2 separate regions of the Homo sapiens genome follow, and region 1 is linked to region 2. Evidence: fine-mapped expression QTL. A gene starts in region 2. The other region holds a variant in brackets. All regions are shown on one strand. Distances are from middle to middle.

Evidence for each region. PIP is the estimated chance that this variant, and not a neighbour inherited with it, causes the effect. A credible set is the group of variants that fine-mapping cannot tell apart.
Region 1: its variant is the best candidate, but not a certain one, in a credible set for the expression of TOR3A in skeletal muscle (GTEx, PIP 0.59).

Annotation. Positions count from the first base shown.
Region 1 is chr1:179,118,662-179,124,034 of GRCh38, reverse strand. It overlaps ABL2 (ABL proto-oncogene 2, non-receptor tyrosine kinase), which reads left to right. Exons shown (of 12, transcript NM_007314.4): 5 at 2,168-2,440; 6 at 3,761-3,845; 7 at 5,271-5,373. Among named protein-coding and RNA genes, the nearest start is that of TOR3A, 39 kb to the right of the region's middle. The variant C/T (reference allele first, on the strand shown) is at 3,204.
Region 2 is chr1:179,079,993-179,085,365 of GRCh38, reverse strand. It overlaps TOR3A (torsin family 3 member A), which reads right to left and starts at 3,296. Exons shown (of 6, transcript NM_022371.4): 1 at 2,979-3,296; 2 at 2,313-2,426. The coding sequence starts at 3,237. RefSeq lists silencers at 1,672-1,731, 2,722-2,891, 3,032-3,321.

The sequences.
Region 1 (5,373 bases), 39 kb before region 2:
CTCCTGACCTCGTGATCCACCCGCCTTGGCCTCCCAAAGTGCTGGGATTACAGGCGTGAGCCACTGCGCCCGACCAAAAGCGTCTTTAAAAAAAATAAATAACAGGCTAGGCATGGTGGCCTATGCCTGTAATCCCAACACTTGGGGAGGCCAAGGAGGGTAGATCACTTGAGCCCAGGAGTTCAAGACCAGCTTGAGGAATATAGTGAAACCTCATCTCTACAAAAAATTTTAAAAATTAGCTGGGCATGGTGGCATATGTCTGTGGTCCTAGCTACTCGGGAAGCTGAGGCAGGAGGATCACCTGAACCTGGGAGGTCAAGGCTGCAGTGAGTCATGATTGTGTCACTGCACTCCAGGCCGGGCAACCGAGTGAGACCCTTATTTCTCAAAAATACATAAAAATTAAGGCTCCCTTGGGAGAGAAGTCCAGAGAATTCCCTCTTACTTTACATTTCTTATTGCTTAGCAAATTAACAACTATTTTGTAAGCAATTCTGTGAAATCCAGTGTGGCTCTTTTCTTTTTTTTAGATGGAGTCTTGCTCTGTCACCCACTCTAGAATGCAGTGGCGTGATCTCAGCTCACTGCAACCTCCACCTCCCAGGTTCAAGCAATCCTCCCACCTCAGCCTCCCAAGTAGCTGGGACTGCAGGCACGCACCACCAAGCCTGGCTAATTTTTGTATTTTTAGTAGAGAGGAGGTTTCACCATGATGGCCAAGCTGGTCTCAACTCTTGACCTCAAGTGACCTGCCCACCTCAGCCTCCCAAAGTGCTGGGATTGCAGGTGTGAGCCACTGCTCCTGGCCACCGGTAAATTGTGGCTCTTTCTTTAATGGCCTAGACACTCAACTGCACGTCATAATTAAAATTATGAGATATTTGAATACTCTTACCAAAAAAATCTAAATCAGTGGTTTTCAAGTTATGTTTTTTACAAGATTAAGGTGATATTTTGTAAATTTCTACAAGAGGCCAAGTCCTTGCTTGCCTACTTTGATCAGGGTATCTCTTCTTTACGTATCTTCTGTAGTTGAGTCCATAGTCTTGTGGCTTAAAAATATTTGAAGACTGGCCGGGCGTGGTAGTTCACACCTGTAATCCCAGCAATTTGGGAGACTGAGGCAGGCAGATCACTTGAGGTTAGGAGTTCCTGACCAGCCTGGCTAACATGGTGAAACCCCATCTCTACTAAAAATACAAAGAAAAAAATTAGCCAGGCGTGATGGCGCATGCCTGTAATCCCAGGTACTTGGGAGGCTGAGGCAGGAGAATCACTTGAACCCAGGAGGCGGAGGTTGCAGTGAGCTGAGGTCATGACACTGCACTCCAGCCTGGGCAACAGAGTGAGACTCTGTCTCAAAAAAAAGAAAAAAAGAAAAAGAAATATATATTTGAAAAAATACATAATTTGAGTATATATATATTTGAAAATATATATATATTTGAAGACCAATGAGCTTGATTATCCAGAGAGAGATCTTGGAAGGTTTTTCCCAAGACTAATTTAGGAAGAATAGGAAAGGCAGATTAAATAAGATTAAACTGAAGTTCTGTGTTTACCCTTGCAATCATCATTTAACTTTTTTATTTACCTCAATTAAGATAAACTCTTGCTGGGTATACTGGCCCAGTCTGTAATCTCAGCACCTTGGGAGGCCCAGGCAGGAGGATTGCTTGAGGCTGGCGTTTGAGACCTGCCTGGGCAATAGTGAGACCCTGTCTGCAGAATATTTTTTTTTTTTTTTTTTTTTTTAAAGATAGCCTTCTATCTATATCTTCAGGCCAGTGAAATATGGGCTTTAAAAAAGAATTCCTAGGCCGGGAGCGGTGGCTCATGCTTGTAATCCCAGCACTTTGGGAGGCTGAGGCCGGCAGATCACGAGGTCAGGAGATCAAGAACACGGTGAAACCCCATCTCTACTAAAAATACAAAAAATTAGCCGGGCATGGTGGCGGGCGCCTATAGTCCCACCTACTCAGAGAGGCTGAGGCAGGAGAATGGCGTGAACCCGGGAGGCGGAGCTTGCAGTGAGCCGAGATCGCGCCAGTGCACTCCAGCCTGGGTGACAGAACAAGACTCCATCTCAAAAAAAAAAAAAAAAAAAAAAAAAAAATTCTTAATCTCTTTTCAAGTTGTTTAGCTTTTCTCCTTTTCTTACCAGGTGTATGTGACTGCTGAGAGCCGCTTCAGCACCTTGGCAGAGCTTGTACACCATCACTCCACAGTGGCTGATGGGCTGGTGACAACATTACACTACCCAGCACCCAAGTGTAATAAGCCTACAGTCTATGGTGTGTCCCCCATCCACGACAAATGGGAAATGGAGCGAACAGATATTACCATGAAGCACAAACTTGGGGGCGGTCAGTATGGAGAGGTTTACGTTGGCGTCTGGAAGAAATACAGCCTTACAGTTGCTGTGAAAACATTGAAGGTGGGTTGCTGAGAATTACAGTTTTCAGGCATCTTTTTCTTTTGTGCTCAATCACTTGGAAATATCAGCATGCCCTTCTTTAACTTTGGAACACTTTCCACCCACTAGTGCCAAGCACATCAGCAAATTGAGATGATTAACCCTAGTGCCATTGCTGACAATGCAGAGGTAGATTATTCACTGCAATGCAGTGAAACCCACATGTGGGAAAGGTCTGTCTCTGGAGGCTGTTGATGTAGATCTTAGTGGGAGGTTAGAAGCAAATTAAAAGTTATAAAAGCAAAATAAGCTCTTTTGCTTCCTGAGAACGACCCCTGCTGGACAGAATTCTTGTCTGAGAGTCATGGGCCTCTTTCTTGTTCTGTCCTTTCTCTCCCTTGTTCTTGTTCCTCCTGTCTCTTTGCAGTTAGATCACTTCTTAATATTAACAGAAATCTTTTTCGTAGTACTACTATATGTCTCCTTTAAACATCCCAGTATCAAATTATAAGGTTTTCACTCACTTGATTCTCCCAGAGCCTCAGTAACTGTCTCTGGTGTATCACTTATAAGGGCTATTCTTTAGCTATTAAGTAGTAGTCAGTTCTGTTTCTTAAGCATATTCTGAGTGTGAAGCAATATATAAGGCCTTGCTCTCTAAGAAGATTATGATCTAAGCAAGAAGATAAGTATGTAAGCAGCTAAGTGCTCTGTCTCGTCATTCAAAGCCTGAGATATCTGGAGAAGTAAACTATGAGAGAACTGAACTATCCAATACAGGGCT[C/T]CTGTGTTTCAGTTGATTATAGGACACGATTGCTGAATTTTGCTCCTCCTGCTAATTTTTACTCCAGGGCATTTTTCTTTCTAAGTTGGACTTCTTAAAATAATAATTATTTCAGCTGGGCGTGGTGGCTCACACCTGTAATCCCAGCAATTTGGGGAGCTCAGGTGGGCGAATCACCTGAGGTCAGGAGAGCATCCTGGCCAACATTGCAAAACCCCGTCTCTACTAAAAATACAAAAAGTAGCCAGGCATGGTCGTGCATGCCTGTAATCCCAGCTACTTGGGAGGCTGAGCCAGGAGAATCGCTTGAGCCCAGGAAGCGGAGGTTGCAGTGAGATCACACCACTTCACCCCAACCTGGGTAACAGAGCGAGACCGTGTCTCAAAAAAATAAATTAAATTAAAATAATAATTATATCTTGTAATATGCTAAAATATTCAAAAGATAGTTTTTACTTTTAAAGCTGAAGCTTTATGATTGTGAGATGAATGAAATGATTTTAAGTTGAGGGTTTGTCCCTCTCGTTTTCTTCTTTCTTACCTTTCCCTTTTTCTAGGAAGATACCATGGAGGTAGAAGAATTCCTGAAAGAAGCTGCAGTAATGAAGGAAATCAAGCATCCTAATCTGGTACAACTTTTAGGTGAGGAACCTTGCCTGAACCATAGATTTCCTCCAAAAATGCTTGCCCTTTAACCCCTTGTTATCTCCAAATGCTTTTTTTTTTTCTTTTTAAATATAGAGACAGGGTCTCGCTCTGTTGTCCAGGCTGCTGTTGACGTGATACTTCCGCCTGGGCCTTTCAATATGTTGGGATTACAGGCATGAGCCACCATGCCCCGCCTTTTTTCCTCCCCCAAACCTTTCTTTTTAGTCACCATGGTGGAAGCTGCAGGTTTGAATCCACTTCAATAAATAGTTATTTTAATCAGTAGGTTCTGTGTTTAAAAATAGCCCAAGAAACAGTGGCCTGGATTGATTTTGGTGTATAAAACTGCTCAGTTTGTACTAATTGCCCCAGATTCAAAGTTCAGAAGTGTTCAAAATGGTACTGAACCAAAAACTCATGAAATGTTTTTGCAAAATAAAGAGACATTAAACAAAGGACTGTTGAAAAGAAGCAAATTAAAAACTGTGACCACACCCCTCAGTTTACCTTTACAAGCAGGAAATGCTTTATTATGTTAGATTGGCTTTTCACTGTTCAGGTCACAAAGAACTCTCTTACTAAGCCTTTTTCCTTTTTTAAAATAGGGCCAGGTTTTTTTTTTTTTCTTTTTTTTGGGGGGGTGTGGGGGGTGTTTTTTTTTGTTTGTTTTTTAAATACAGAGTCTTGCTCTGTCACCCTGGCTGGAGTGCAGTGGCATGATCCTGGCTCACTGCAACCTCCACCTCCCAGGTTCAAGCTATTCTCGTGCCTCAACGTGCATCACCACGCCCAGCTAATTTTTGTAGTAGAGACAGGGTTTTGCTATGTTGGACAGTCAAGTCTTGAACTGCTGGGCTCAGGCGATCTGCCTGCCTCAGCCTCCCAAAGTGCTAGGATTACAGGCATGAGCCACTGCACCCGGCCTCTTGTTGGTTTTTTATAAGGAATCTGCCATATATCAGTGAAATCCTTGACTATGGAAATGATGAAAATCATTTTGCAAAGCAGTATTGCAGGTGGGGCTCACATAGTCTTCAGCTTGTGCACAATTGCTATTACTTTTGAATAAGTATTGTTAGCCTGCAGTTGAGGAGGAGAATCATGGGCCATGTGCAAAACTCTAGACATGTTGGTTTTCTTGGCCCCTTATAGAATTAATACAGGTAACTCTGCTTTTGCTCAAATAGACAAATACTCAGAGGCATATGAATTCCCAGAGAACAATACAGTGAAAGCAAGGACTCCCTTATAAACCAGCTTCTTAGTTTTTGCTTATTAATTTCAGAGAACGTGGTGGTAAGAAGGGAAAAGATTATTGCCGAACTAGACCTGAAAAATTGTCAAATTATTCTTGGCCAAAGTGGTTTGGAGTGTTTGAATGTACACTAATAAAAACAAGCACTATTGTTCAACTTTTAGGTGTGTGTACTTTGGAGCCACCATTTTACATTGTGACTGAATACATGCCATACGGGAATTTGCTGGATTACCTCCGAGAATGCAACCGAGAAGAGGTGACTGC
Region 2 (5,373 bases):
TGCAACCTCCGCCTCCCTGGTTCAAGCGATTCTCCTGCCTCAGCCTCCCGAGTGGCTGGGATTACAGGTGCCCACCACCATACCCAGCTAATTTTTGTATTTTTAGTAGAGACGGGTTTCACCAGGTTGGCTAGGCTGGTCTTGAACTCCTGACCTCGAGATCCGCCCACCTCGGCCTCCCAAAGTGCTGGGATTACAGGCGTGAGCCATTGCGCCCAGCCTCAAGGACTACTTTTTGAAGAGTTTGGGAAATCAAGATGGGACTCAGGGAGAGTGGAATCACCCTTCCTAAAGATCCTGCAGATACCCAGAACAGTTGGCACAGACCTGTCTAGGGAGGAACCCTGTCCCCCATGTCCTGAGGCTGCTCCCATCCCTTGGTTTCAGGGCTCCCTGTTTTATGGAGAAGCCTGATTTTATTCATTCTCATTCAATTCAGCCAACACTTGGTGAGAGCAGCTCCAGTGTGCAAAGCCTTCTGCTAGGTCTAACTTCCTCCTGTCAGACGTGAGGTTGTAGGATTTGGAGATGGCGCTACCAGGAGCCACAGTGCAGACAGGCAGGGTGTGCGGCCAGCTGTGGGTGAGCATTCCAAATCCAGGATCAATTGGTTGAACACCTTAAGCCAGCCCAGAGCAGGTATTCTGGAGCCTTGGGAGGTCAAGGTCTATGATAAAACATTGAGGGCATCACACATTGCTCCAAAAGTAGTAGTGACATAGAAGAAAATTAACATTTGCTGCTTTTTTCTCTGTATTCAGAACTGGGCTAAGTGTTTTACATTTGGTCTTCACAATTCTGCAAGGCAGGCATTATTATTCCCATTTAAAGCTGAGGAAACTGGCTGGGCGAGGTGGTTCCCGCCTGTAATCCCAGCACTTGGGGAGGCTGAGGCGGGCGGATCACGAGGTCAGGAGTTCGAGACCAGCCTAGCCAACATGGTGAACCCCCTCTCTACTAAAAATACAAAAATTAGCTGGGCATGGTGGTGGGCACCTATAATCCCAGCCACTCGGGAGGCTGAGGGAAGAGAATCGCTTGAACCTGGGAGGCAGAGTTTGCAGTGAGACGAGATTGCTCCAGCCTAGGTGACAGAGACTGACTTGGTCTCAAAATAAATAAGTAAAAAAAATAAAATAAAATACAGCTGAGGAAACGGACACTTGGGAAGGACTCTTCAGTTTGCCAGCAAGGAAGAGGCACGACTAGGAGGGGTCTCCAATCCGCTGGCCAGAACAATTTGGATATCCAGGCCCTTGTCGAACAAAAGGCATGTTGAGGACAGAAAGTAACTTGCTAATTGCTACCTAGGGTCTTATCCAAGTCAGCAGTGATCCAAATTAAGACTTCCTGACCTGTATGTAGTCCTATCTTCTGTCCTGAGCCAGACTGTGTCCCTAAACACACTGTGTTATTGGCATTTTGGCCAATTAAGTGACCTAAATATCTGGGGTGGGCCTCATTTATGGAGATTGAAGGACCTGGGATCAGGAGAACTCTGGGCAAGAAATTGCTCCTGGGGAAAAGAGAGGAAGCTTTTGCAAATGTCTGAACAGGTTTCAGAACATGGGGCCAAAGATCACCTTGTGAGAGTGAAAATGCAAATCAACTGCGATATGCAAATCAAGCAACCCAAACTAATTAGAAAATACTGGTTGCCATGGCACAGTGGCTCACGCCTGTAATCACAGCACTCTTGGAGGCCAAGGCAGGCAAATCACAAGGTCAGGAGTTCGAGACCGGCCTGGCCAACATGGTGAAACCCGCCCCCCCCCCCCCCCCCCGCCTCTACTAAAAATACAGAAATTAGCCGGACGTGGTGGCAGGCACCTGTAATCCCAGCTACTCGGGAGGCTGAGGCAGGAAAATTGCTTGAACCCAGGAGGCGGAGGGTGCAGTGAGCTGAGATCGCACCACTGCACTCCAGTGTGGGTGACAGAGCAAGCCTCCGTCTCAAAAAAAAAAAAGAAAAGAAAGGGACACTTTTAATCACAACCCAGAATTTCTGATCAGTTCTCTCTGGATAGTTCCAGCCCCCTCTGAGAGGTAGCTGTTTCTGTTTAGAGTGAAACAAGGTGCTCTGGGCCTGACAAACAGCTCAGTTTGCCTGGGCTATTAAGCTAGAGGCTAAAAAGGGGCTTCCCTGACTCAAGCATTTGGTACTCCCTCAAAACTTCAGTCAGACTGTGGCAGTTCCTGCTTGTCGGGAGGCTGGGCAGGATGACGAAAGGTCCCTTGCATCTAACCATTTCCCCTGGACTGCCTCCCCTCCCCACAGATCCCTAGCCCCTTGAAGCCATGCGGGGTCCAACCTGTAAAGTTGTTGGAGATTCTGCAATCCCCTCTAGGGCAGCAGTCTTTGAAGCTGCAGTACCACGTGGTCAGGAGGTCCAGGTACCGCTGGCCCAACAGAGGAAGGCGCCAGCCTGGAAAAGGAGGAGCTGTGAGACCGAGAGGAGACCATCCGGTGCTCTACAGTGATGCGGCAACCTTGCCACACAACTTGTCAGGGACAGAGGGACACCCAGAACTCAGATTCTAACTCCCAGCCCCGACTCGGCCCACTGTCGGTCCTCAAGCCCTGCGTCCAAAAGCAGCAAGGGAGACGGCAGTCACCAGGCATGTCCACAGCGGACGTTCCCTAGAGCTGTCAAGAGCAACACCTTCGAATAACGCCAGGGTGGGCTGGGAGATGGCACAGGCGGTGCGAGAGAATCTGGAAAGCGCAGGGATCAGGGGAGGCGGGGGACGGGAAGCCGGGCGCCAGGGGGGTGCGCAGGGGACGCGGGTGGGGCAAGGGCGGTGATGGGGCTCCCTGCTCCGCGGAGGCTGCCCCCGCCCACAGCCGGTACCGGCGGCTGAGCAGAGCAGGACTGCGGGCCCAGATGTCGCCCCGGACAGGAGCGAGGCGACCACAGCCGCGCCCGGATCGCACTCTGCTCCGCAGCGAACGGCGGACCGTGGGGACGGGGTCTTACCCAGGGGCCCCGTGGCTGCCTCCTCGTCCTCGTCACAGTCGTCGGGCCACACCTGGCAGCTGAAGAGCGTCCAGTACCGCTTGGAGAGGGCACCCGCCGCCCTGAGCTGCTCCTGCAGGCGCTGGAAGCCCGGCCAGGCCCAGGCCGAGCCCGGCTCGTCGGTTCCCTCCCACGGCCTGGAGGCGCCGCGGGGCTCAGGCGCGCCCGGGAGCAGCAGCAGGAAAAAGAGCCAAAGCTGGCGCCACGGACCGCGAAGCATGGCCGGCCCCGAGCTGCGGGACCATCCGGCTGCCGGCCTAGCCAGGCTCCCTTAAGCCCGGGGCGGTCAGGCGGGGACCGCACTTCCTAGGCGGGCTTGAACCCGGGATTGGTGTTGCTGTGGCGACCGGCGGGCCGGGCTGAGTGCGCACTGGCAGCCTCCGTACACGTGACCCAGGCGGGAACCCGAAACCCTGTCTGGGGTCCTGAGAGGCAGTCCCGAGACTGACTTCAGGCCAGGTGCAACTAGCCGGCTTCCAGGAAGCAGTTTATTCTGGGTCGTGATTGTGGTTGCAAAGAAGGTGAACTCAGGCTTTGAAATGGCCACTGTCAATCACTCCGCTAGGACTTTCGGACGGCTCTGGTGGCCCATCAGAGGCCTACCGAATAAGGACACTCCTGCTTTGCCTCGCGTTTGCAGATCAACTTCCCGCCAACCTGTTAGAGGAAGCCGGAAAACCGTCTCAGTCAGGAGCGTTAGGCAGGCCAGGGGAGTCAGCTGAGTGGAGAAGAGGCCCTGGAAAGAAGGGCACAGCTAGGTGCCTGTCTGGCCAAGGTTGCCCTGGCTCCTCCGCAGAGGGAAATGAAACCGCAGCAAAACACCAGCAGGTTTCCACAGTGGGAGTCCACGAAAAGCAAGAGGAAGCTGATTGACGGGCTCCAGTCTGGAGGTGTTTGGAGTTTGGAAACCCCCCGAGTCATGGGTAAATCATGAGGCGTCATGTCAATGTAATTATATCTCATAAAAATCCGAAGTACTGTGTGCACTTTCTTGACTAGGTTTGCAACTTTCAAGTGCTGGGACTGAGCAGCCCATCCGACACCATTGGCAAAAGACTACAGGGCCTCTTTCCCTCAGCGCTCTCTTCTCCATAGCGAGGAGCATGGAACAAGGCTGTTAGATTTCAGAAGAGCTTAATGCATTGTTTAAAATCACCTGGCTTACTTCAGCCAAGCCAAAAAGCCGTCTTGTCTTAGGAGAAAACTGCTGTCTAGAGAGATCAGAGGACTTGGCTAATGTCATATGTTTAGTGGCTTTGAGGTTGGGCCCTCCAGACAGTAAGGTGAATACTAGCACCGTGTCTCACAAATGTCACAGGCAACTTGATTCATCTGTTCACCCCAGTCTCTTAGATCACACCGTGCCAGGTCTGCTCCATTCTCAGCAGCTCACCAAATTTGTGCCTTTCATTCGAACAGCTACAGAAACTAGATAAAGCACCTTTGCTAGGACACGAGGTTGAGTTGAAAAGTAAAATGTTTATAGTGTCTCAGCCATTCAGTGTGATGTCAAAAACTTTTCATAGAGTAGCAGCCATGGCACCAGCCCAGCACTGTGTACATCGAGCTTGCGGAGTCCACCGGAGACAGTTAACAGCACATACACCACAGTGCTTATTGGAAAACCAAAAAAAATTAGGCAGGGTGTGGTGGCTCACGCCTGTAATCCTAGCACTTTAGAAGGCCGAGGCGGGCGGATCACCTGAGATCAGGAGTTCGAGACCAGCCTGGCCAACATGGTGAAACCCAGTCTCTACTAAAAATCCAAAAATTAGCTGAGTGTGATGGTGCGCATCTGTAATCCCAGCTACTCAGGAGGCTGAGGCAGGAGAATGGCTTGAACCCAGGGGGCAGAGGTTGCAGTGAGCCAAGATGGTACCACTGCACTCCAGCCTGGGTGACAGAGCAGGGCTCCATCTCAAAAAAAAAAAAAAAAGAAAAAAGAGAAAAGAAAAAAAATTAACTCACTCAACAAATGTCGTTTGAGTCTGAATGGCAGTCTAATATAGTGATTACCATTTTCTATTTGTGCAACCATGGATGTTACTGAACCGTCCCATGCCTGTTTCCTCACCTATAAAAAGGGATAATAAAATAGTCCCCTCATAGGGCTGCTGTGAAGATTAAATGAGCTCATTCAATGAGCACATCATCAACACTCAATACGTGGCCAGTTTTATTTTTGTATCTACCCAGCCATGGAGGAGGCTCTGGGTGGTCTACACAGGAGGCAAGGATGGCTTTAGTTAATACTGGTGGTTTATAAGTGAATTTATGGTGAAAAAATTAATAGTAACAATAGTTTATTAAAACAATCCAAGTTTTAAGATGTTGTGGAAAGAATTATCTGTACTTG